Regions from separate parts of the Homo sapiens genome. Here regions 1 and 3 are each linked to region 2. Evidence: fine-mapped expression QTL. A gene starts in region 2. Each other region holds a variant in brackets. All regions are shown on one strand. Distances are between the middles of the regions.

What was found.
Region 1: its variant is fine-mapped to the expression of CD68 in whole blood (TOPMed, PIP above 0.99).
Region 3: its variant is fine-mapped to the expression of CD68 in whole blood (TOPMed, PIP above 0.99). The same link has a PIP of 0.9 or more in blood mononuclear cells.

The regions. Positions count from the first base shown.
Region 1 is chr17:7,554,780-7,562,948 of GRCh38, forward strand. TNFSF12-TNFSF13 (TNFSF12-TNFSF13 readthrough) reads left to right here. Exons shown (of 11, transcript NM_172089.4): 6 at 1,999-2,123; 7 at 4,845-4,923; 8 at 5,067-5,114; 9 at 5,270-5,388; 10 at 5,571-5,709; 11 at 5,945-6,822. The coding sequence ends at 6,054. It overlaps TNFSF12 (TNF superfamily member 12), which reads left to right. Exons shown (of 7, transcript NM_003809.3): 6 at 1,999-2,123; 7 at 2,320-3,102. The coding sequence ends at 2,571. TNFSF13 (TNF superfamily member 13) reads left to right here and starts at 3,971. Exons shown (of 6, transcript NM_003808.4): 1 at 3,971-4,518; 2 at 4,845-4,923; 3 at 5,067-5,114; 4 at 5,270-5,388; 5 at 5,571-5,709; 6 at 5,945-6,822. The coding sequence starts at 4,261. The coding sequence ends at 6,054. It overlaps SENP3 (SUMO specific peptidase 3), which reads left to right and starts at 7,140. Exons shown (of 11, transcript NM_015670.6): 1 at 7,140-7,484. It also overlaps SENP3-EIF4A1. RefSeq lists enhancers at 112-612, 2,721-3,514, 3,100-3,159, 3,970-4,019, 6,394-6,643 and 1 more and a silencer at 7,204-7,283. The variant G/A (reference allele first, on the strand shown) is at 4,459.
Region 2 is chr17:7,576,090-7,584,258 of GRCh38, forward strand. CD68 (CD68 molecule) reads left to right here and starts at 3,549. Exons shown (of 6, transcript NM_001251.3): 1 at 3,549-3,637; 2 at 3,721-4,238; 3 at 4,377-4,496; 4 at 4,622-4,694; 5 at 4,807-4,977; 6 at 5,289-6,022. The coding sequence starts at 3,589. The coding sequence ends at 5,422. It overlaps EIF4A1 (eukaryotic translation initiation factor 4A1), which reads left to right. Exons shown (of 11, transcript NM_001416.4): 5 at 435-603; 6 at 967-1,076; 7 at 1,255-1,398; 8 at 1,480-1,617; 9 at 1,738-1,827; 10 at 2,076-2,155; 11 at 2,253-2,917. The coding sequence ends at 2,397. It overlaps MPDU1 (mannose-P-dolichol utilization defect 1), which reads left to right and starts at 7,763. Exons shown (of 7, transcript NM_004870.4): 1 at 7,763-7,876. The coding sequence starts at 7,774. It overlaps SENP3-EIF4A1 (SENP3-EIF4A1 readthrough (NMD candidate)), which reads left to right. Exons shown (of 22, transcript NR_037926.1): 16 at 435-603; 17 at 967-1,076; 18 at 1,255-1,398; 19 at 1,480-1,617; 20 at 1,738-1,827; 21 at 2,076-2,155; 22 at 2,253-2,917. It also overlaps SNORD10, SNORA67 and MPDU1-AS1. RefSeq lists a silencer at 2,550-2,738 and enhancers at 4,214-4,273, 4,374-4,443, 6,587-7,460, 7,412-7,461, 7,461-8,169 and 1 more.
Region 3 is chr17:7,598,418-7,606,586 of GRCh38, forward strand. FXR2 (FMR1 autosomal homolog 2) reads right to left here. Exons shown (of 17, transcript NM_004860.4): 2 at 7,680-7,732; 3 at 7,228-7,321; 4 at 5,592-5,663; 5 at 5,340-5,488; 6 at 4,492-4,585; 7 at 2,992-3,108. Among named protein-coding and RNA genes, the nearest start is that of FXR2, 12 kb to the right of the region's middle. The variant A/G (reference allele first, on the strand shown) is at 4,014.

The DNA.
Region 1 (8,169 bases), 21 kb before region 2:
AATTTTTTTTTTATGTTTTAGTAGAGACGGGGTTTCACCGTGTTAGCCAGGAGCGTCTCGATCTCCTGACCTCGTGATCCACCCACCTTGGCCTCCCAAGGTGCTGGGATTACAGGCGTGAGCCACTGTGCCCAGCCTCAGACCAACTCTTAAGGAGTCACTGTCTAGGAGAGGAAACAAGCATATAAATTTGTAATTACAGGAACATACAAAAAAAATTAGCCAGGTTTGGTGGCACATGCCTGTAATCCCAGCTACTCAGGAGGCTGAAGCATGAGAATCACTTGAACCCGGGAGGCGGAGGCTGCAGTGAGCCGAGATTGTGCCACTGCACTCCAGCCTGGGTGACAAGAGTGAGACTCCATCTCAAAAAAAAATTTGTAATTACAGTGGAATATGACAAGAACAATAATAAAAGTGGCCAAGATACCTGGCAACACAGGGGAAGACAGACATGGCTGTGGAGTCAGGGATTCTCTCCCTGCATCGCAAGGTGCCGCTGGGCCTTGAAGCAGGAGCGTAAGACAAGACAGGCAAGGGGTCAAGAATGGTGGGTGCAAGCAGAAGCAGCCCCTGGGGCAAAAGCCCCGGGTTTGCCCAGAGCATGATGAGGCTGGGGGACTCTAAGTTCAGCGTGGCAGAAGCAGAAAGTGCTAGAGGAGCGAGATGGGGATGAGGCTGGAGACAGAAGCCAGGCCACACGGTGGCATGTGGGAACTATTCTGAGGTGAGCCATCGGAAGGAGGAAGGCGAGGCGAGGCGGGCTTACGTCTGCATCTTAGAGACTCATTCTGTGGCTTTGTGTAGGGAATAAACTGGAGGAAGCCAGAATGGAAACAGGGAATGCTGTGAAAACCAGACAGAGGCACCAGATGGGGGAGAGAGGGGAGAGAGCTATTTAGGAGGCAGGATAGATAGGAACTGGTGATCGATTAATGATGTAGGTAAAGGAGAGGGAGGCTTGAATATCCCCCTGGTGGCAAAACCAGAAGCCAAATGTGGAAAACAGACAGTAAAGCAAGAGTGGGATGAGGGGGGTCAGCTCAGTGTTGGTTGAGATGAGTTTGAGGGGCTATTGCTGTTCAGATGGTGCAGTTGGCAGGGTAAGGAAGGGAAGGAAACTTCAGGGCTGGAGACTCTGCAGAGCACAGGTTGTGGGAACCCATTGGTGGAAATAAAAATGCCCAGTGAGCGTTTTTTTTGTTTTTTTTTTTTTTTGGAGACAGAGTCTAGCTCTGTTGCCCAGGCTGGAGTGCAGTGGCATGATCTTGGTTCACTGCAACCTCCCCATCCCAGGTTCAAGTAATTCTCCTGCCTCAGCCTCCCATGTAGCTAGGATTACAGGTGCCTGCCACCATGCCCTGCTAGTTTTTGTATTTTTAGTAGAGACGGGGTTTCACCTTGTTGGCCAGGCTGGTCTCGAACTCCCGACCTCAGGTGATCCGCCCACCTTGGCCTCTCAAAATGCCGGGATGACAGGCGTGAGCCACTGCACCTGGCTGAGCATGATGTTTTCAAGGCACATCTGTGCCATAGTGTGTATCAGTACTTCACTCTTTTTATGGCCAAATAATATTCCATTATATGGATAGACATTTTGTTGATGGACAATTGGGTTTCATTTTATTATTTTTAGTTGTACTAATTCAGATAATGTATGTTTACATCCTCCATATAAAAGAAGCAAATAATATAGATATCCATGAAGTAAAACATTAAATCCCCTCACGCTTCTCCTTCAGTTCTACTCTTCTCCCCAGAAGTGACTGCAGGTGACAATCTGCCCTGAATGTCTCTGGCCATATACATTAGATTTTTTCACATAACTTCCTAGTCAACTATGGGCATCATAGGGGATGGGTCCTCCCTTGCCCGGGGTGATCTATGTGTCTTCTGGGTAAAGTGGGCGCCGAATGTTCATATGCTCAATGGATCCCTGGGGAGTGTGGGGGAGTCCTGTAGAGAGACGTTTCCTTATCTCTGAGCATCCGTGTTCAGGTGTGGACGGGACAGTGAGTGGCTGGGAGGAAGCCAGAATCAACAGCTCCAGCCCTCTGCGCTACAACCGCCAGATCGGGGAGTTTATAGTCACCCGGGCTGGGCTCTACTACCTGTACTGTCAGGTAAGCCCCATCTGGCTGCATGGGTAACGCAGTAAGAGAGTGGCGAAGGGTTTGCCAGGAGAGTGGGGGACAAGCTACAGGGCTGGGAGGGTGAGTTGGGGTTTGGGTGGGATGGGATGCCTGCGTCGCTGAGGAAATTGGAAATTGAGGCGAGGGCAGGCAGAGGCCTGGACTCGGCCTGTTGTCCCCACCCCAGGTGCACTTTGATGAGGGGAAGGCTGTCTACCTGAAGCTGGACTTGCTGGTGGATGGTGTGCTGGCCCTGCGCTGCCTGGAGGAATTCTCAGCCACTGCGGCGAGTTCCCTCGGGCCCCAGCTCCGCCTCTGCCAGGTGTCTGGGCTGTTGGCCCTGCGGCCAGGGTCCTCCCTGCGGATCCGCACCCTCCCCTGGGCCCATCTCAAGGCTGCCCCCTTCCTCACCTACTTCGGACTCTTCCAGGTTCACTGAGGGGCCCTGGTCTCCCCGCAGTCGTCCCAGGCTGCCGGCTCCCCTCGACAGCTCTCTGGGCACCCGGTCCCCTCTGCCCCACCCTCAGCCGCTCTTTGCTCCAGACCTGCCCCTCCCTCTAGAGGCTGCCTGGGCCTGTTCACGTGTTTTCCATCCCACATAAATACAGTATTCCCACTCTTATCTTACAACTCCCCCACCGCCCACTCTCCACCTCACTAGCTCCCCAATCCCTGACCCTTTGAGGCCCCCAGTGATCTCGACTCCCCCCTGGCCACAGACCCCCAGGGCATTGTGTTCACTGTACTCTGTGGGCAAGGATGGGTCCAGAAGACCCCACTTCAGGCACTAAGAGGGGCTGGACCTGGCGGCAGGAAGCCAAAGAGACTGGGCCTAGGCCAGGAGTTCCCAAATGTGAGGGGCGAGAAACAAGACAAGCTCCTCCCTTGAGAATTCCCTGTGGATTTTTAAAACAGATATTATTTTTATTATTATTGTGACAAAATGTTGATAAATGGATATTAAATAGAATAAGTCATAGTCTCTCTCTTTATTGGGGCTCAGGGGACACTCTCAGGGTAGCTGGGGGCCACGTGAAGGGGGGCGTTGCGGAGCGGCACAGCTGGAACTCCGGGATGATGTTCAGGCTTGGGGGCGGGGACCTCCATGCCTCCAGCCCCCAGGTGGGAGCAGAGGTAGGAAGGCACACTGCCCAGGAAAAAAATCAATCCTCCGCCCAAGGTACAGCAGAAGCGGCCTCCTTGGCCTAGGAGGCAGACTTCCTCCTGCGGGGAAATCCCTTCCTGGCTGGGAGGAGCAGGGGCCCTTCCTCTTGGTGGCCTCGGACATTCAGCAGGTGCTGGCACAGGCCCTGGCTGGGAGGTGGGGCGGGCAGGAGCCAGCCTGGAGGAGGGGCTGAGAGTCAGCAGGCACACGGGAACCCGGAACCCTGTGTGCTGGGGAGGAATCCCGCAGTGGCCGGGGGGCTTGAGGCCGCTGCTTTGTCTCTTCGTCCAGAGCCTTATGTAAGAGCTTTTCTCGGGAAACAGGAAGTCCTGCTTGCCAATTTCAGCACAGGGAGTAGTGCAGGCCTTATTCCAACACACCCGGCCCAGCCTTAACCCCAGAACTCAGCCAGTTTCTTGCTTCCGTGCCCCTGGTTCTCCTCCCCATCGAGCCCACCCCTCCTTTCCCACCTTCAGTCACCCCTAGTGAACTGCCCCAGCGATCTCTGCTGTGCTTGACCCCGAGGGTCTTCCACCCTCGCCCTGACCCTGGACACTGCCCAGCTTGGCCCCCCATCCTGCTCCTGGCACAATGCCCTCTAGCCAGCCAACCTTCCCTCCCCCAACCCTGGGGCCGCCCCAGGGTTCCTGCGCACTGCCTGTTCCTCCTGGGTGTCACTGGCAGCCCTGTCCTTCCTAGAGGGACTGGAACCTAATTCTCCTGAGGCTGAGGGAGGGTGGAGGGTCTCAAGGCAACGCTGGCCCCACGACGGAGTGCCAGGAGCACTAACAGTACCCTTAGCTTGCTTTCCTCCTCCCTCCTTTTTATTTTCAAGTTCCTTTTTATTTCTCCTTGCGTAACAACCTTCTTCCCTTCTGCACCACTGCCCGTACCCTTACCCGCCCCGCCACCTCCTTGCTACCCCACTCTTGAAACCACAGCTGTTGGCAGGGTCCCCAGCTCATGCCAGCCTCATCTCCTTTCTTGCTAGCCCCCAAAGGGCCTCCAGGCAACATGGGGGGCCCAGTCAGAGAGCCGGCACTCTCAGTTGCCCTCTGGTTGAGTTGGGGGGCAGCTCTGGGGGCCGTGGCTTGTGCCATGGCTCTGCTGACCCAACAAACAGAGCTGCAGAGCCTCAGGAGAGAGGTGAGCCGGCTGCAG[G/A]GGACAGGAGGCCCCTCCCAGAATGGGGAAGGGTATCCCTGGCAGAGTCTCCCGGAGCAGGTGAGTGAGGGGAGGAGGGTGTCTGGGAGAGGATGGTTAGCATGGGGGGTCTCTGGGCCTCCTGGTCTGCAAAGTTTCAAGGGGGTGCAAGAGAGGGTCTCCGGTTTGGAAGTCAGGGGCGCGGCCATTCCAGGAAAGGAAACTGTTAAAGGTTAATGCTTCTCATACCTAACAAATCCTGGAGGGCAGCCAGCACCAACACTCAGGGTGCTGGGAAAAGGTGCGTGAGAGATCTGAGGCATCTCGGGGGCAGGGGAGGGCTGGGAAGGCAGGCTGGCTGGGACCCTCGCATCTTAACCTAACCTTGACCCTCTTTCCATGAGCAGAGTTCCGATGCCCTGGAAGCCTGGGAGAATGGGGAGAGATCCCGGAAAAGGAGAGCAGTGCTCACCCAAAAACAGAAGAGTGAGGCTTCCAGGGTGCAGCAGGGGTGGGAGGTGATCAAGCAGCGTGGGGATTGTAAGCCCGAGTCAGGGTGAGGGTGGAGGCTGCCAACAGCACAACGGGGGAAAGTGGATGCGGCTGAGATTCCCTCCTTCTCTCCTCAGAGCAGCACTCTGTCCTGCACCTGGTTCCCATTAACGCCACCTCCAAGGGTGAGCACTATTTTAAATAATGGCTTTGGGGAGGGGCAATAACCAGGAACTCGGGCTGGCACTTGGGCTCAAGGGGTCCTTATAGGTGAAAGGGAAAGAACCAAAAAGCACCTGAGAGTGCCAAGAAGTCCTGACCGACACACTCTCACCTCCAGATGACTCCGATGTGACAGAGGTGATGTGGCAACCAGCTCTTAGGCGTGGGAGAGGCCTACAGGCCCAAGGATATGGTGTCCGAATCCAGGATGCTGGAGTTTATCTGCTGTATAGCCAGGTAACCCCAGCCACACTCTGAGCTTCACAGAGGGCCTCTTTGGCCCCCTACTGAGGGTTCCTGACCCCTCTATTCATACCAAACCCAGCAGACCCTTCTTTCTTCCCTCGTTAGCGCTCCTGAGGCCTCCCAGAACTGAGCCAGGCCATCCTGTTTTCTTCAACATCTCCCTTCCCTGCCAGGTCCTGTTTCAAGACGTGACTTTCACCATGGGTCAGGTGGTGTCTCGAGAAGGCCAAGGAAGGCAGGAGACTCTATTCCGATGTATAAGAAGTATGCCCTCCCACCCGGACCGGGCCTACAACAGCTGCTATAGCGCAGGTGAGAGCCGTGTGGGCAGCCGAAAGCAGGACGTCTCTGACCGGGGGTAGCAGTGCAGGGAGCTACCGCTAGGAGGGAGGTTGGAAACCTAAACAGAGGCGGGTCTGAGGAGTGAAGTGCAGAATGCCGGGTCCTTACAGGAGGCAGAGGAACGGTGGAGCTGGAGAAGGCAGGGGGAAACAGGGCATCTGGATGGCTGTGCTTCACTGCGAATCTACTTTCTCTCTTTTCTCAGGTGTCTTCCATTTACACCAAGGGGATATTCTGAGTGTCATAATTCCCCGGGCAAGGGCGAAACTTAACCTCTCTCCACATGGAACCTTCCTGGGGTTTGTGAAACTGTGATTGTGTTATAAAAAGTGGCTCCCAGCTTGGAAGACCAGGGTGGGTACATACTGGAGACAGCCAAGAGCTGAGTATATAAAGGAGAGGGAATGTGCAGGAACAGAGGCGTCTTCCTGGGTTTGGCTCCCCGTTCCTCACTTTTCCCTTTTCATTCCCACCCCCTAGACTTTGATTTTACGGATATCTTGCTTCTGTTCCCCATGGAGCTCCGAATTCTTGCGTGTGTGTAGATGAGGGGCGGGGGACGGGCGCCAGGCATTGTCCAGACCTGGTCGGGGCCCACTGGAAGCATCCAGAACAGCACCACCATCTAGCGGCCGCTCGAGGGAAGCACCCGCCGGTTGGCCGAAGTCCACGAAGCCGCCCTCTGCTAGGGAAAACCCCTGGTTCTCCATGCCACACCTCTCTCCAGGTGCCCTCTGCCTCTTCACCCCACAAGAAGCCTTATCCTACGTCCTTCTCTCCATCTATCGGACCCCAGTTTCCATCACTATCTCCAGAGATGTAGCTATTATGCGCCCGTCTACAGGGGGTGCCCGACGATGACGGTGCCTTCGCAGTCAAATTACTCTTCGGGTCCCAAGGTTTGGCTTTCACGCGCTCCATTGCCCCGGCGTGGCAGGCCATTCCAAGCCCTTCCGGGCTGGAACTGGTGTCGGAGGAGCCTCGGGTGTATCGTACGCCCTGGTGTTGGTGTTGCCTCACTCCTCTGAGCTCTTCTTTCTGATCAAGCCCTGCTTAAAGTTAAATAAAATAGAATGAATGATACCCCGGCTCCATTTCCCCCACTGCCTCGCCTCAGCCCGGTCCTCGTACGGGGATCTCCCGCCCTCCTGGCTCTCCTGTGGCGCGCCCCCCGCCGGATCAAGGTACTGGGGATGCCGCTAGGGTCAGGCCCGCGAGCGCGGAGAAGACAGAGCGCGGCGCAAAAGGGAAAGTGGCGGGGCCGCCACGCGCGGCCGGGCGGCGGATGTGCGCAGGCGCAGCCTCGCGTAGCGCTCTGGGCTGGCCAGTCCCGTGGCGCCGGCGTCCTCGGGTAGACGGGACCGCGCGCTTGGTGGCCGCGCCGGCGCTCTTCGCCGGGTGTGACGTACTAATCGTGCGCCACCGCTGCCGGTGGGCCCGGGGCTCGCGGGAGGGGAAGGAGGAGGGGGGGAGGAGTGGCGGCGGCGGCGGTGGCGCTGGTGGCGGCGGTGGCGGAGGTGGAGGTGGAGGTGGAAGCTGAAGCTGAAGCAGAGCCAGAGGCGGCGCGGCGGGGTGCTCGGCGGCGCGGCACGCGGCCCAGAAGCGTTGGAATCCTGAATTGAGACGGCTGCGCCTAAAGACAGCAGGAGTGGCGGGGCCGCCGCCGTCGCCGGAGAGATGAGCCGGGAAGCTTGAGGCCGGAGACGCCCGCCTTCGGGCCCGTCCGCCCGGCTTCCCCGCTCCCGGTGAGGACGCCCCCTCCCCTCCCCCCAGCCCTGCCTTGGCCTCTCCCATTCCTGGGCCTCGCTCCCACCGAACCGGGGCCCAGAGGCCCGCATAGGGGCTTCTTAAGGCCCGTGTGCGCCGAGCCATCCAAGCTCGTGGGACCGGACTGGTGCCGGGTTGCATTCTGGTCCCCGAGGATGAAGTAGGAGGGGGCTGGGCCGGCCTGGCTTGTGCGCTCCGTTCTGTCCCAGCGTCTTGATTCGGTTCTCTTTAAGTTTCCTTCAAAGTTCTTCCCCGTTTATCAGCCTCTGCCCCCTGAACCATATCCCTGGCATCTGCACTTGAGATGACCGCAGCCTTCCCATGCCCCCCGTTCATCCAGGGTGTTAGAGAACTGTCTCCCATTCCAGTCCAGTTTCCACGTGCAAGTTGCATTCTCCTCAAGTACCACGGTTATCATGTCCCTGAGGAAAGAAACTGCCCTTGTTGGGCCCTCAAAGGACAGCCCTGGTGGTATTAAAATAAAGACGTAGAACCTGGCAGTGCTATTGGGTTTGGCCTGGTGATCTTAGAAATAAGATCTCTGAGGCCTGCTGCTTAGCCATTTTCCCTTGTCTCTGGACTGGGGAGAGATGATGGCACAGACCCTGAAGGGCCCCTTGTGGACCGCGTTAACCGGGAAGATCTTAAGTTAGGAGTTTTGCG
Region 2 (8,169 bases):
ACCCAGGAGGTGGAGGTTGCAGTGAGCTGAGATTGTGCCATTGCACTCCAGCCTGGGCAACGAGCAAAGCTCTGTCTCAAAAAAAGAAAAAAAAAATGGTTGCTGCGTGATGAGGCAGTTGGTCAAATTAGTTTTCAGAAGGTTAAGGGTTCTAAATATCTAGAGTAAAGAAACTGAATTAATTATCTGAGCGGCCTCATTGTGAATCACTGTACACTCAGGAACCAGACTGAGTTGAAATCCTGTCTTTGCCACCTATTGACAGCACGATCTTAAGTGGATTTTAGCCTCTGCCTGTTTCTCAGCTGAATGTGAGTTTAATAATAGTGCATGCCCCAAAGTTGTTGGTTAGGAATCAATACATGAAAAACATTTAAGAATGGTGCCGGGCACAGTGGTAACTGACATATGAGCACCTGCCTCTCTCTGCTCAGATACAGAAGGTGGTCATGGCACTAGGAGACTACATGGGCGCCTCCTGTCACGCCTGTATCGGGGGCACCAACGTGCGTGCTGAGGTGCAGAAACTGCAGATGGAAGCTCCCCACATCATCGTGGGTACCCCTGGCCGTGTGTTTGATATGCTTAACCGGAGATACCTGTGTGAGTAATTCGGTTCTCCAATCCCCTGGGTCACTTTGCTCTTGTGCACGCTTTCCAGTCTTTCAGCGTAAGCCAGAGTCATTCCCAAGGATGCTGGTTTCTCTCTGGGGGAAGAGCTGCTCTGTGATGGAGCCCATGCGTGTCATCTGAGCCTCTGGCTTCCCTGCCAGTGCAGCCCTGGCAGTGTCCTACTTCCCAGGGCTGTTGTCTGCCTGGCGGGAAGGTCCTGGGCAAAGGATCAGTCTTTGTACTCTGAGAGCAGACTACTTGGCTCCTCTCTGTTTTTTATCAGCGAAGTTGGATATATCTCTCCCACATTTCCCTAATCATATGCTATATATTGGCTTTTTTTTTCTTCTCTAGCCCCCAAATACATCAAGATGTTTGTACTGGATGAAGCTGACGAAATGTTAAGCCGTGGATTCAAGGACCAGATCTATGACATATTCCAAAAGCTCAACAGCAACACCCAGGTGAGGGCAGTCTTGCTTGAATAGCTAATGATTCTTGAAAAATAGTAAGTGCCAGGGGAACCATATACTGGATTCTTGAGCCTTTTTATGCATCTGCTTCAGTTTTAGGTGTGGCTAGGGAAGGGAGCAGGCCTCAGGAAGGAACCAGCACTCTAAGACTGGCCTTTTTTTCCACTAGGTAGTTTTGCTGTCAGCCACAATGCCTTCTGATGTGCTTGAGGTGACCAAGAAGTTCATGAGGGACCCCATTCGGATTCTTGTCAAGAAGGAAGAGTTGACCCTGGAGGGTATCCGCCAGTTCTACATCAACGTGGAACGAGAGGTGGGGCCCAGTGCAGGAGGCGGGCCTGGTAGTGAGTTGTTGGGTATAGCCCCTGACTGATTTTTGTCCCCCAACCTCCAGGAGTGGAAGCTGGACACACTATGTGACTTGTATGAAACCCTGACCATCACCCAGGCAGTCATCTTCATCAACACCCGGAGGAAGGTGGACTGGCTCACCGAGAAGATGCATGCTCGAGATTTCACTGTATCCGCCATGGTGTGTTTGCCCGCTGCCAGCCTGTTGTGGGTCTGCCCGTCAGAAGTGTCCTACTTGAAGCCAGGGTTCCTGGAACCCAGGTGCCTACCTGGTCTGCTGCATATTTGTTTTCTCTTCCAGCATGGAGATATGGACCAAAAGGAACGAGACGTGATTATGAGGGAGTTTCGTTCTGGCTCTAGCAGAGTTTTGATTACCACTGACCTGCTGGTGAGTAGAGGGAACTGATAGCAAAGGCAGAAGGGAGGATCCAAGGTGATTCCCTCTCCAAGGGGACATCAGTGCCTCTCAGGAAAGTAGCAGCTTGGAATAGAATCTGGCATGCCTAAGGCCTTTGGGGAACTGGGATGCTTATTTCCTCTGCCTTCCTTGGCTGCCCACATGGATGCCTAAGTGTCTTCCCTCCGGGATAGAGTGTCCTCCGTGCACATGCTGAAGAGTTGTCTTTCTTGACGTAGGCCAGAGGCATTGATGTGCAGCAGGTTTCTTTAGTCATCAACTATGACCTTCCCACCAACAGGGAAAACTATATCCACAGGTAAGCGTAGATCTGGAACACTCCCCTACCCCTTCACACCTGGCCCTCCCTGGGCTTAAAGCTCCTGATATTCCTCATCCCCTTCCTTGTTTTCCAGAATCGGTCGAGGTGGACGGTTTGGCCGTAAAGGTGTGGCTATTAACATGGTGACAGAAGAAGACAAGAGGACTCTTCGAGACATTGAGACCTTCTACAACACCTCCATTGAGGAAATGCCCCTCAATGTTGCTGACCTCATCTGAGGGGCTGTCCTGCCACCCAGCCCCAGCCAGGGCTCAATCTCTGGGGGCTGAGGAGCAGCAGGAGGGGGGAGGGAAGGGAGCCAAGGGATGGACATCTTGTCATTTTTTTTCTTTGAATAAATGTCACTTTTTGAGGCAAAAGAAGGAACCGTGAACATTTTAGACACCCTTTTCTTTGGGGTAGGCTCTTGCCCCAGGCGCCGGCTCTTCTCCCAAAAAAAAAAAAAAAACACTAATCCATTTCCCTAACCTAGTAACCTCCAGATCCCAGAGGCTCTCCTCACCTCAGCTGAGCTCCTTTGAAAGTGATTCAAGGGACTATGTCACTCAGCCTCATTTGCTGGACCAAATCTGGAGGGAGAACCCCTAAAACCCCTAAGTGAGGTTGCCCAGGGGGTTGTCCCCAGGTGGGGGGAAGCAGGGGAGAGAAAATGGTAGCCATTTTTACATTGTTTTGTATAGTATTTATTGATTCAGGAAACAAACACAAAATTCTGAATAAAATGACTTGGAAACTGCCTGTTTGGGCTTCTCATTTCTTACCTCCCCTTCCCTCTCCCACCTGCTACTGGGTGCATCTCTGCTCCCCCCTTCCCCAGCAGATGGTTACCTTTGGGCTGTTGCTTTCTTGTCACCATCTGAGTTCTCAGACGCTGGAAAGCCATGTTCTCGGCTCTGTGAATGACAATGCTGACTGGAGTGCTGCCCCTCTGTAAAGGGCTGGGTGTGGATGGTCACAAGCCCCTCACATGCCTCAGCCAAGAGGAAGTAGTACAGGGGTCAGCCCAGAGGTCCAGGGGAAAGGAGTGGAAACCGATTTCCCCACCAAGGGAGGGGCCTGTACCTCAGCTGTTCCCATAGCTACTTGCCACAACTGCCAAGCAAGTTTCGCTGAGTTTGACACATGGATCCCTGTGGATCAACTGCCCTAGGACTCCGTTTGCACCCATGTGACACTGTTGACTTTGCCCTGATGAAGCAGGGCCAACAGTCCCCTAACTTAATTACAAAAACTAATGACTAAGAGAGAGGTGGCTAGAGCTGAGGCCCCTGAGTCAGGCTGTGGGTGGGATCATCTCCAGTACAGGAAGTGAGACTTTCATTTCCTCCTTTCCAAGAGAGGGCTGAGGGAGCAGGGTTGAGCAACTGGTGCAGACAGCCTAGCTGGACTTTGGGTGAGGCGGTTCAGCCATGAGGCTGGCTGTGCTTTTCTCGGGGGCCCTGCTGGGGCTACTGGCAGGTAAGGAGGAAGGAGGCTGAGGGGAGGGGGCCCCTGGGAGGGAGCCTGCCCTGGGTTGCTAACCATCTCCTCTCTGCCAAAAGCCCAGGGGACAGGGAATGACTGTCCTCACAAAAAATCAGCTACTTTGCTGCCATCCTTCACGGTGACACCCACGGTTACAGAGAGCACTGGAACAACCAGCCACAGGACTACCAAGAGCCACAAAACCACCACTCACAGGACAACCACCACAGGCACCACCAGCCACGGACCCACGACTGCCACTCACAACCCCACCACCACCAGCCATGGAAACGTCACAGTTCATCCAACAAGCAATAGCACTGCCACCAGCCAGGGACCCTCAACTGCCACTCACAGTCCTGCCACCACTAGTCATGGAAATGCCACGGTTCATCCAACAAGCAACAGCACTGCCACCAGCCCAGGATTCACCAGTTCTGCCCACCCAGAACCACCTCCACCCTCTCCGAGTCCTAGCCCAACCTCCAAGGAGACCATTGGAGACTACACGTGGACCAATGGTTCCCAGCCCTGTGTCCACCTCCAAGCCCAGATTCAGATTCGAGTCATGTACACAACCCAGGGTGGAGGAGAGGTAAAGCTAAAACTGGGGGATGAGAGGGGAGGGAGGCAGGACTGGATATAGGCTCAGAGGGAAGAAGGAAGAGGGGACAGGGAACCTTGGCCGGCATCGCATGCAGTCTTGTGACCTTCCAGTCTTTAACTTCCGCAGGCCTGGGGCATCTCTGTACTGAACCCCAACAAAACCAAGGTCCAGGGAAGCTGTGAGGGTGCCCATCCCCACCTGCTTCTCTCATTCCCCTATGGACACCTCAGCTTTGGATTCATGCAGGTATAGCCATGACCTCAGTCTCACCCCTCACTCAGCCTCCCGGCGCCCCTCCCCTCCCAATCCCACACGCTACTCCTTCCTCTGTGGAGAGGGATACCACCTGCGCCTTCCTCTTCGCCCCACAGGACCTCCAGCAGAAGGTTGTCTACCTGAGCTACATGGCGGTGGAGTACAATGTGTCCTTCCCCCACGCAGCACGTAAGTAACCTCCTTCCCTTTCTCATTGCTACCACTAGACGCCAGGGTTCCTGAAAGGACTAAGCTGGGGCCAGGGAGGTGGATAGGATCTGACCCTTCCTCACTCCTCCAGAGTGGACATTCTCGGCTCAGAATGCATCCCTTCGAGATCTCCAAGCACCCCTGGGGCAGAGCTTCAGTTGCAGCAACTCGAGCATCATTCTTTCACCAGCTGTCCACCTCGACCTGCTCTCCCTGAGGCTCCAGGCTGCTCAGCTGCCCCACACAGGGGTCTTTGGGCAAAGTAAGACCTACCTACTCCTTCCCTCCTAGAATCCTCCCACTGCACTGAAAACCCCTTCCCCAGGCCCATAAGCCACTCATCTCTCTTCTTAACCCCCCAAATCTCGCTCTCCCAGCTTGTCATGGCTACAGGGCAGCTTTCTTTCCATCCTCTACAAGACTCTGCCAGTTTCCCCCTTTTATCACTGCTGAGTCACTGCGGTGAGCTCCTCACCAATCTCCTACTCCCCAGCATCCCCCCATTCCCTCCTCCCACCTTTATCCCAACCAGCACGTCACTGCAAATACCTACCTGCCCTATCCTTCCGCCAGGTTTCTCCTGCCCCAGTGACCGGTCCATCTTGCTGCCTCTCATCATCGGCCTGATCCTTCTTGGCCTCCTCGCCCTGGTGCTTATTGCTTTCTGCATCATCCGGAGACGCCCATCCGCCTACCAGGCCCTCTGAGCATTTGCTTCAAACCCCAGGGCACTGAGGGGGTTGGGGTGTGGTGGGGGGGTACCCTTATTTCCTCGACACGCAACTGGCTCAAAGACAATGTTATTTTCCTTCCCTTTCTTGAAGAACAAAAAGAAAGCCGGGCATGACGGCTCATGCCTGTAATCCCAGCACTTTGGGAGGCTGAGGCAGGTGGATCACTGGAGGTCAGGAGTTTGAGACCAGCCTGGCCAACATGGTGAAACCCTGTCTCTACTAAAAATACAATTAGCCAGGTGTGGCGGCGTAATCCCAGCTGGCCTGTAATCCCAGCTACTTGGGAGGCTGAGGCAGAACTGCTTGAACCCAGGAGGTGGAGGTTGCAGTGAGCCGTCATCGCGCCACTAAGCCAAGATCGCGCCACTGCACTCCAGCCTGGGCGACAGAGCCAGACTGTCTCAAATAAATAAATATGAGATAATGCAGTCGGGAGAAGGGAGGGAGAGAATTTTATTAAATGTGACGAACTGCCCCCCCCCCCCCCCCAGCAGGAGAGCAGCAAAATTTATGCAAATCTTTGACGGGGTTTTCCTTGTCCTGCCAGGATTAAAAGCCATGAGTTTCTTGTCACATGCCTTTCTATGCCTTCCATGGCTGGGTCTCAGGGAGCCGGAAGCAGCTGCTGAGGAGGGATGAAAATGTCAGTGTGTGACGATGCCTCATGGGTTCACCCCCCAAAGCCTGGCACAGCTGGTGTTGGGTCTGCCGTGCCTCCCTTCCTTCCTCCTCTTGGGGCCACTGGCTGCTCCAGTTCCCCATCCGTGGCAAGCCGGTAGAGCCATTCATCCCCGCAGCCTTCTTCCTGACCCTCGTACAGTTTCAAATGCAGCAGACAGCCAAAGCAATGAGTGGGGGGCTGTGGAACTTCATTCCCAAAGGCAGCGCCAGTGGCTCCTGAGCAATGAGAATGTCCTGTCCTGTCCACCATATTCAAGGCCAGCAGAAGAGCCCGATTAAACCCTCGCAGCACCTGGCATGCTCCTATCCCACCTACAAGGGGTTGAATCAAGAAGGAGCAGTGGGTACTCTGACCTCCACTGGGGGCTCCTGGGAACAGCATGCCCCCCACACGGGGCCACCTGCCAAGCCTAACTTCATGCCCCCAGTACTTGAGATGAGGAGTGTCACTCTCAGGACAGCCAAGGTCCAGATTCCAGAAAGGACCTCCCAGATGGCCACAGCCTGCACCAGCAGTGAGCGCCAGTCCCACCCATTACAGCTGGCTACGGCGCAATCCCTGGGAGCCAGGATGAGCAGCACCCCCCAGCCGTAGGAGCCCCAGGAGGCTTCCGGCCTCCAAGGCCCAGAGACTGCCCCACAAGGGCAGCCCTCACCTGGCAGGGCCCCAGCAGCCCCACCTCTGCCTGCAGACATCCGTGTGACCTTGTAGACTTTGGAGGGGGGCCGCCAAAGGGCTGATCCACAGCGGAATGACGCACGGGTGGGCACCGTGGGTTGGCGTCCCGGCGGTCGGTAACGAAGCACAACGCCCCCACCAGGTAGTCCAAGGTGCCCTTTCCCAAGCAGCGCTGCAGGGTCCACTCGGCCTCGCCGAAGTCTCTGCCCAGCACGTGGTGCGCCCTCGGGCCAGCGGGGAGGGGGCGAATCCCGGGACTGCCTCGCCAGGCCTCGGCTCCCCGGAGACTCTTGGGGGTCTGGGCCCCAAGGGTGATTCAGGTGCTGCCCTTCCCCGACCTGGGCTCGCCTCCCCCACCTCCTCCTCTGCTTCACTGTCCCGGGCCCAGCAGTTGCCGGCGCACTCATGCTCCGAGGCCTGAGCCAACCGGAGGCGAGACAAGCACAGGGCCCTGCGCGCAACCCGGCACCTAAGGAGGCCTGCCCGGTGCAGACTCTCCTGCTCCCACCGGCGCCCTTCCCTCTAGAGACGCTGAGAGAACGGGAGCTAGTAGCGCCCCCACCCAACGCCACCTCGGAGACTCCGGCTCCTTCTCTCTCAACTTCGAACAATACAAAGTGTGCTAGGAGAAGACAAGATGGCGCCCAGCAGGAGGAGCGGAGAAAGGCAGGGGTGTAAATCTGGCTTCCAAACTGGAAGCGTCAACAAAGGCGTGGGAGGTCTAACCGCGCAGGCGTGCAGCTTCGGCAAGCTTTACAATTCCAACAGCGCGTCCAAAACGTGGTCCCTGACTGAGACTTATTTTACGCCACTAGAGTGAGGGTGGGTAGCGTCAGAAAGAGCGGGGCACGGGGCGGGCCAGCTTCGCCGCGGGAAAAGAACGGGAGGCGGAGTGTCCGCAGCGCGCACGCGCAACGAAAGTCAATGGCGGTCTGGAGAGACTGGCGGAAGCTAGCTTTGCAATATGGCGGCCGAGGCGGACGGACCGCTTAAACGGCTGCTCGTGCCGATTCTTTTACCTGAGAAATGCTACGACCAACTTTTCGTTCAGTGGGACTTGCTTCACGGTGAGTTTTATTCAGCATCCGATCCAAGTCCTACTCGAGTGACCGTGGGCCCTTAGTCCAAGCCTTGATCGGCGACTAAGTGACGGCAGTGACTGCCGCCATGCCGAGCTGGACGGAAGTCACTTCTGAGAAGGGCGGAAGTGTCTCGGGCTCCTTAGAGGGAGGACACCATATTAGTGCCAGTGGGGAAGTCACCGGGTGGAATTACTTCTTTGTGGAGTTTGTGCTGTAGCGACAATGAAAAACGAAGAGTCAACTTTTATAAAACAAAATAAAAATTAAGTCAAATCATG
Region 3 (8,169 bases), 22 kb after region 2:
GCACTCCAGCCTGGGTGACAGAGCGAGACTCCGTCTCAAAAACAAAACAAAACAAAACAAAACAAAAAACCAGAAGGCACTGTTAACTCAATGGCTTCTCAGTATACGCACAATAAAATCCCCCCTCCTCAGCCTACCGTACATGTCTTACATGATCTACTCTCTGACCGAATTTTGTATCGGTCTCCCTTTGCTCACTCTGCGCTAACTACACAAGCTGCAGTGAGCTGAGATCGCACTACTGCACTCCAGCCTGGACGACAGAATGAGACTCCGTCTCAAAAAATTAAAAAACAACAACAAAAATTAGGCCGGGTGCAATGGGTCATGTCTATAATCCCAGCACTTTGGGAGGCCAAGGCAAGTGGATCCCTTGAGGCCAGGGGTTCGCGACCAGCCTAGCCAACATGGTGAAACTCCGTCTCTACTAAAAATACTGAAATTAGGGCCAGGTATAGTGGCTCATGCCTGTAATCCCAGTACTTTGGGAGGCCAAGGCAGGTGGATCACCTGCGGTCGGGAGTTCAAAACCAGCCTGGGCAACATGGTGAAACACTAAAAAAGCAAAAATTATCCAGACGTGGGGGCGCGTGCCTATTATCCCAGCTACCTGGGAGGCCGAGGCACAAGAATCGCTTGAACCCAGGAGCGAGAGGTTGCAGGGAGCGGAGATTGTGCCATTGCACTCCAGCCTGGGTGACAGAGGGAAACTGTCTCCAAAAAAAAAAAAAAAATAGCCAGGTATGGTGGCATGCACCTGTAATCCCACCCACCCAAAGGCTGAGGTGAGAGGATCACTTGAGCTCGGGGGGTAGAGACTGCAGTGAGCTGAGATCGCACCACTACATACACTCCAGCCTGGATAACAGACTGAGACTCCATCTCAAAACAAAAAACAAAAACAAAAAATAAAGTTTGTATCATCTGAAGGTAATGGTGAATTTTTACCTGCCAGTGCCCTGAGCAGGATCCCTGAAGAAGTCAAAGATTATCATGACCCAGAAATTGCACAGGCACAGAAAAAAGCCTCCCAAAAAGATCAATTCCCTTGATAAATGGAAATGGTATTCAAACACACACACCCTATTCACTTAGAATAGTATAATACCAACGAAAGGGAATCTGACAATTATACGATGTCAGAATTCAAAAAGATCTCACAGAAATACTCTAGTCAGGCCAGGCGTGGTGGCTGACACCTGTAATCCCAACATTTTGGGAGGTCGAGGTGGGCGGATCACCTGAGGTCCATAGTTTGAGATCAGCCTGGCCAACATGGTGAAACCCCATCTCTACTAAAAAAGACAAAAATTAGCCAGGTGTGATGGCACACACCTGTAATCCCAGCTACTTGGGAGGCTGAGGCAGGAGAATCGCTTCAATCTGGGAGGTGGAGGTTGCAGTAAGCCAAGATAGCGCCACTGCGCTCTAGCCTGGGCGACAGAGACGCTATCTCAAAAAACAAACAAAAAAACAAGAAATATCCTTTTTTTCTTTGAGATGGAGTTTCACTCTTGTTGCCCAGGCTGGAGTACAATGGTGTGATCTCGGCTCACTGCAACCTCCGCCTCCCAGGTTCAAGCGATTCTCCTGCCTCAGCCTCCCGAGTAGCTGGGACAACAGGCGCCTGCCACCACGCCTGGCTAATTTTTGTAGTTTTAGTAGAGACGGGGTTTCACCCATGTTGGCCAGGCTGGTCTTGAACTCCCGACCTCAGGTGATCTGCCCGCCTCAGCCTCCCAAAGTGCTGGGATTACAGACGTGGGCCACCGCGCCCAGTCATATCCTTTTTTTCTTTGAGACAGAGTTTCACTCTTGTCACCCAGGCTGAAGTGCAATGGCGCAATCTTGGCTCACTGCAACCTCCACTTCCCAGGTTCAAGCGATTCTCCTGCCTCAGTCTCTCGAGTAGCTGAAATTACAGGCATGTGCCACCACGCCCAGCTGATTTTTGTCTTCTTAGTAAAGATGGGGTTTCACCAGTCTCGACTCCCAACCTCGGATTGATCTGCCTGCCTCGGCCTCCCAAAGTGCTAAAGTGCTGCGATTAAAGGCGTGAGCCACCGCGCCCACCCTAAAAAATAAATATTCTAGTCTAGGCTGCATGTGGTGGCTCACACCTGTAATCCTAGCACTTTGCAAAGTACAGGCAGATGGATCTCTTGAGCCTAGAAGTTCAAGACCAAGGCCGGGCGCAGCGGCTCATGTCTGTAATCCCAGCACTTTGGGAGGCCGAGGCAGGTGGATCATGAGGTCAGGAGTTTGAGACCAGCCTGGTCAACATGGTGAAACCCCATCAATACTAAAAATACAAAAATGAGCTGGGTGTGGTGGCACAAGCCTGTAGTCCCAGCTACTCAGGAGGCTGAGGCGGGAGAATCGCTTGAACCCAGAAGGTGGATGTTGCAGTCAGCTGAGACTATACCATTACACTACAGCCTGGGTGACAAAGTGAGACTCCGTCTCAAAAAAAACCATTCAGCCAGGTGTGGTGGCTCACGCCTGTAATCCCAGCACTTTGGGAGGCTGAGGCGGGTGGATCACATGAGGCCAGGAGTTCGAGGCCAGCTTGGGCAACATGGCAAAACCCCATCTTACTAATAATACAAAACTTAGCCGGGTGTGGTGGCGCACGCCTGTAATCCCAGCTACTCAGAAGGCTGAGGCATGAGAATCGCTTAAACACAGGAGGCAGGGGTTGCAGTGAGCCGAGATCGTGTCATTGCACTCCAGCCTAGGCGACACAGCGAGACTCTGTCTCCCAAAAAAAAAAAAAAAAAATTGGCTAAAAGAAATTTGAAAATAATTGCACTATACCATGATAGAGCTCTGCCATCTGGAGGAGTCTGAGATAAAATAGCTGACCCAGGTTTAATTGCCCAGAAAAAGCCTTAGTCTTTGTTCTGTAAACACAAGATCATGGATGGAGGACAGGGTAGGAAGGGAGGAAGACAATACCCTTCAGCAGAAGGAAAAGGAGCTAAAAGTTACCTCTAGGTGCTTGGTAGCTTCTTCATTGCGGGACATAAGTAGCAGTTTGGTGCGCAGGCTTCGGAAATGCATATCACCCAGCAGAGATGCTCGCTTCACAGGGGCTTCTGTGGTTGACTGGGAGGAAACCAGTGGGAAAGTCATTAAAACTGGCTTGGAATAAACACTAAGGGAGAGCCAGGGACTAGAAATCAGGATGCCTAAGTCCCGGGAAAAGGGTTAAGAAATGAAGCTAGGAGACCGGGCGCGGTGGCTCATGCCTGCAATCCCAGGACTTTGGGAGGCCAAGGCAGGCGGATCACGAGGTCATGAGATCGAGACCATCCTGGCCAACGTGGTGAAACCCTGTCTTTACTAAAAATACAAAAATTAGCTGGGCGTGGTGGCACATGCCTATAATCCCAGCTACTCCAGAGGCTGAGGCAGGAGAATCGCTTGAACCCGGGAGTCGGAGGTTGCAGTGAGCCGAGACTGCGCCACTGCACTCTAGCCTGGTGACAGAACAATACTCTGTTTTCAAAAAAAAAAGAAATGAAGCTAGGAAGGAGGAGACTCATTGTCAGTCCCACAAAGGCTGACTATCAGGGTACTGAAGGAAAATGGTTTAGAGAGAAAGCAAGGAGCAAGCATAAGGTGAGAGCTACATACTCTATTTCTGAAAGTCCAAATATCAAGAGAGGGTCTCTAACCCAGATGGCAACATGATTATCAGGTTTAAAAAAAAAGGGTCAGAGGCCGGGCGTGGTGGCTCACGCCTGTGATCCCAGCACTTTGGGAGGCCAAGGCGGGCGGATCACGACGTCAGGAGTTCAAGACCAGCCTGACCAATATGGTGAAACCCTGTTTCTACTAAAAATACAAAAATTAGCCGGGCATGTCGGGCGCGGTGGCTCACGTCTGTAATCCCAGCACTTTGGGAGGCCGAGGCGGGTGGATCAGGAGATCAGCAGTTCAGGACCAGCCTGGCCAACATGGTGAAACCCTGTCTCTACTAAAAACACAAAAAAAAATTAGCCAGGCGC[A/G]ATGGCAGGCGCCTGTAATCCCAGCTACTCGGGAGGCTGAGGCAGGAGAATCGCTTCAATCTGGGAGGTGGAGGTTGCAGTGAGCCGAGATCGCGCCACTGCACTCCAGCCTGGGCGACAGAGTGAGATTCCATCTCAAAAAAAAAAAAATTAGCCGGCGTGGTGACGCACACCTGTAATCCCAGCTACTCAGGAGGCTGAGGCAGGAGAATTGCTTGAACCCGGGAGGTGGAGGTTGCAGTGAGCCGAGATCGTGCCATTGTTCTCCAGCCTGGGTGACAAGAGTGAGACTTCGTCTCAAAAAAAAGAAAAAAAAAAGGTAGGGCTACCTGGGCCTGTAGGAGTCAGGAGCAATAAAGTCCTCTTGACAAATAAATATAAGCACATTTAAGCCCTTCTCTTTCTGCAAAAGGGTTAAAAAGGGAAAAAGAAAAAATGTTCAAAAGGCTTATGTGAAATTCAGGCAGAATAAACTCACCAGAATGAAGAGCTCACTGTTTGTGATGTTGAGAAAGATGCAGTTGGCTCCCAGGGCTTTCTTGAACTCTTTATGGACGTTTTCATTGGAGCAGCTGCAGAGGAAAAAAGTACTCAGCGGGCAGAATGCAGAGAGTACAGTGAAGAGTTCGGGGGAGGCTGGACATGGTGGTTTGCACCTGTAATCCTAGCACTTTGGGAGGCTAGGGCAGGATGATCACTTGAAGTCAGGAGTTCAAGACTAGCATGGGCAACATAGTGAGACCCTGTCTCTATTAAAAAAAAAAAAAAAAATTCAGAGAAGCAGGGCTGAGTAAATAAGAAAAGAAAAGGGACTGGGCCGGGTGCGGTGGCTCACGCCTGTAATCCCAGCACTTTGGGAGGCTGAGGCAGGCGGATCACTTGAGGTCAGGAGTTTGAGACCAGCCTGACCAACATGGAGAAACCCTGTCTCTACTAAAAATACAAAATTAGCCGGGTGTGGTGGTGCATGCCTGTAATCCCAGCTACTCGGGAGGCTGAGGCAGGAGAATCGCCTGAACCTAGGAGGTGGAGGTTGCGGTGAGCCGAGATTGTGCCACTGCACTCCAGCCTGGGCAACAAGAGCAAAACTCTGTCTCCAAAAAAAAAAAAAAAAGAAAGAAAGGAAAAGAAAAGAAGAGGGACCACAGTTAAAGAACAAGGATGGGAAAATAAAGAAACTAAGTGTCTTCTTAGCAAGAAGGGCTCTAGTAGAGGGCCAGGGGAACAACAGAGAAAACTGCAAAGTGGGAGTGATGCCTGGGAGAAATAAAGCCAGAGATTAGGGCTGTAAAGAGGGCCCTCATTCCCACCATCCTTAACACTCACGCTTCTCTCAGATCCTCGGGCACAGCCATGGTAACCTTGAAGAAGCTGCCTTTGGTTGCAAGGGGATTGGGATTAACTGGCCGAAGTCGCTCCAGGGTAACAATTTCATTGTAGGTGGCATCACAGGCAGCATATTCAATGACATAGAACTGGCACATGGTAAAAAAGGAGAAGTTGTGGATGACCTGAGCAACTTTCTATGAATAACATATTTGTTTCAGTAGTTCTCCAAAGGCATTCCCAGTCACTCACATCTCCCTTCATCATCCGCACCCGGGCCAGCCACCAGCCACAAGGTTCCTGTTCATTGGCTCGAGAATAAACCTAAAGAAAAGTAGAGAATCAAAGAGATATTGAAGACCACCCAAAAGCATCAAGAAAGGGATGAGGAGGCCGGGCATGGTGGGGCTCACACCTGTAATCTCAGCGCTTTGGGAGGCTGAGGCAAAAGGACTGCTTATGCCCAGGAGTTCAAGACCAGCTTGGGCAACATAAACAATAGAACAACCATTAAGATATTTGGGGCTGCTGGGCACAGTGGCTCAAGCTTATAATCCCAGCACTTTGGAAGGCCAAGGTGGGAGGATCTCTTGAGCTCAGGAGTTCAAGAACGATCTGGGCAACACAGTGAGACCCCACTTCCACGAAAAAAAAAGAGGCCAAGCGCGGTGGCTTATGCCCATAATCCCAGGACTTTGGCTGAGGTGGGCTGATCACCTGAAGTCAGGAGTTCAAGACCAGCCTGGCCAACATGGTAAAACCCCACCTCTACTAAAAATACAAAAATTAGCCGGGTGTGGTGCCACATGCCTGTACTCCAAGCTACACAGGAGGCTGAGGCAGGAGAATCACTTGAACCAGGAGGTGGAGGTTGCAGTGAGCTGAGACCGCGCCACTGCACTCCAGCTTGGGCAACAGAGTGAGACTTCATCTCAAAAAGAAAAAAAAGGTATTTGGGATGCATCTTTTTTTTTTTTTTTTTGAGACAGAGTTTCGCTCTTGGTGCTCAGGCTGGAGTGCAATGGCACAATCTCAGCTCACTGCAACCTCCACTTCCTGGGTTCAAGCGATTCTCCTGCCTCAGCCTCCCAAGTAGCTGGGATTATAGGCGCCCGCCACCACGCCCAGCTAATTTTTTGTATTTTTAGTAGAGATGGGGTTTCATCATGTTGGCCAGGCTGGTCTTGAACTCCTGACCTCAGGTGATCTGCCCCACTCGACCTCTCAAAGTGCTGGGATTTCAGGTGTGAGCCACTGCATCCAGCCTGGGATGTATCTTAAACCAAGGATACAAGAAACCAGAGGAAGGAACTAATTAAAATCAGAGGACGGCAGGGCATGGTGGCTCATGCCTGTAATCCCAGCACTTTGGGAAGCTGAGGCGGGTGGATCACCTGAAGTCAGAAATTCAAGACTAGCCTGGCCAACATGGTGAAACCATGTCTTTACAAAAATGCAAAAATTACCCGAGCATGATGGCAGGTGCTTGTAATCCCAGCTACTTGGGAGGCTGAGGTGGAAGAATTGCTTGAACCCAAGAGGCGGAGGTTGCAGTTAGCTGAGATCGCGCCACTGCACTCCAGCCTGGGCAACAGAGCAAGACTCCATCTCAAAACAACAACAACAACAACAACAAAAAAATCAGAGGGCACTGGATTTTAGATGTTGTTACCATAAATGGAAGGCAAATCGCCTGAAACTGGGGATGTTCCTGAGAGTTTGGCTGATCACAACAGTGATAAAAGGGGAACTGTTGCATTTTACATTTCCATAGGCTACATGGCTGGATATGGCTTAGTTGGGGAGGAAGGAACATGAACCAACCAGAGAAAAGCCTAGAATCCTGGGGAAAAGTGACATTTAGAAAGGTGTACTCCACAGCCCTTACCTCCACTTCATCCCCTTCTGTGATCTCCTTATTATAGTCAGCTGGAGGTGGTAGCCGGACATCCCCAAAAGGAATTTGTCTCTCACTCTGCCAGCTATAATAGAAACAATAATATGAAAAAGCTACTCTGACTGATATGGTTGCCCATTTCTTTACAAAAGGGTTATTGCCTCAGCTGGGCGAGTTCCACCTATCTGGATAATTAGAGGCTAAACCCCAGGCCCTGCTCCATAGTAGTGTCTTCCATCTCTTTCTAGACTCTAAATACTGGGTCAAATGCCCCCACCCTCACCAAATTCTCAGCCCTTTCCTCTCCTGGGATCCATATGAGTTCCCACCCAAACCCTCAGCTCTCCCAACCTATTACATGCCTCATAGGACTCAGCTGCCCCCTCTTCTCCACTCTCCTTCTAGGACCTAGTATGCTGGATTCTCTATTCCCAAGGTCTTACTTGTTTTCAAAGAAGATGGTGACAGAGTCTTCATGGACATCCTTCACAAAGCCCTAGAATGGATTTTAGAAAAAAGCAAAAAAAATAAAATGACCTTTTACTTCCACCTTAGCCATCAAGGGAATAAGACACCACAAAACCTTAAACTTGAGTTTTAGATAGGGACACAAGTGGTGTAATGAGACAGCCTGAAAGGCTGCACTGGGGAAAGAATATGGGCAGTCAAACAGAGAAAGGAAATGATATTGTCATGGAGAGGTGTATGTACCACCTGCATCAGAACAGCCTGGAAACCAATGATCTACTCAGGCTCCCACAGGGGCCTCCCTATCTGTCTGCCTCCTGTTGTGCTAAGCAGCCTGCCAGAGTTCAATTAAAATACCAACAACATTCAGCAAGGCTAAGAATATCCCATGAGACAGTGTGAGGCTGTCCTGGAACACCTAGAGGACATGAGGATCTGTCGAGAGAGAAGGGCCTACCTCCGCAA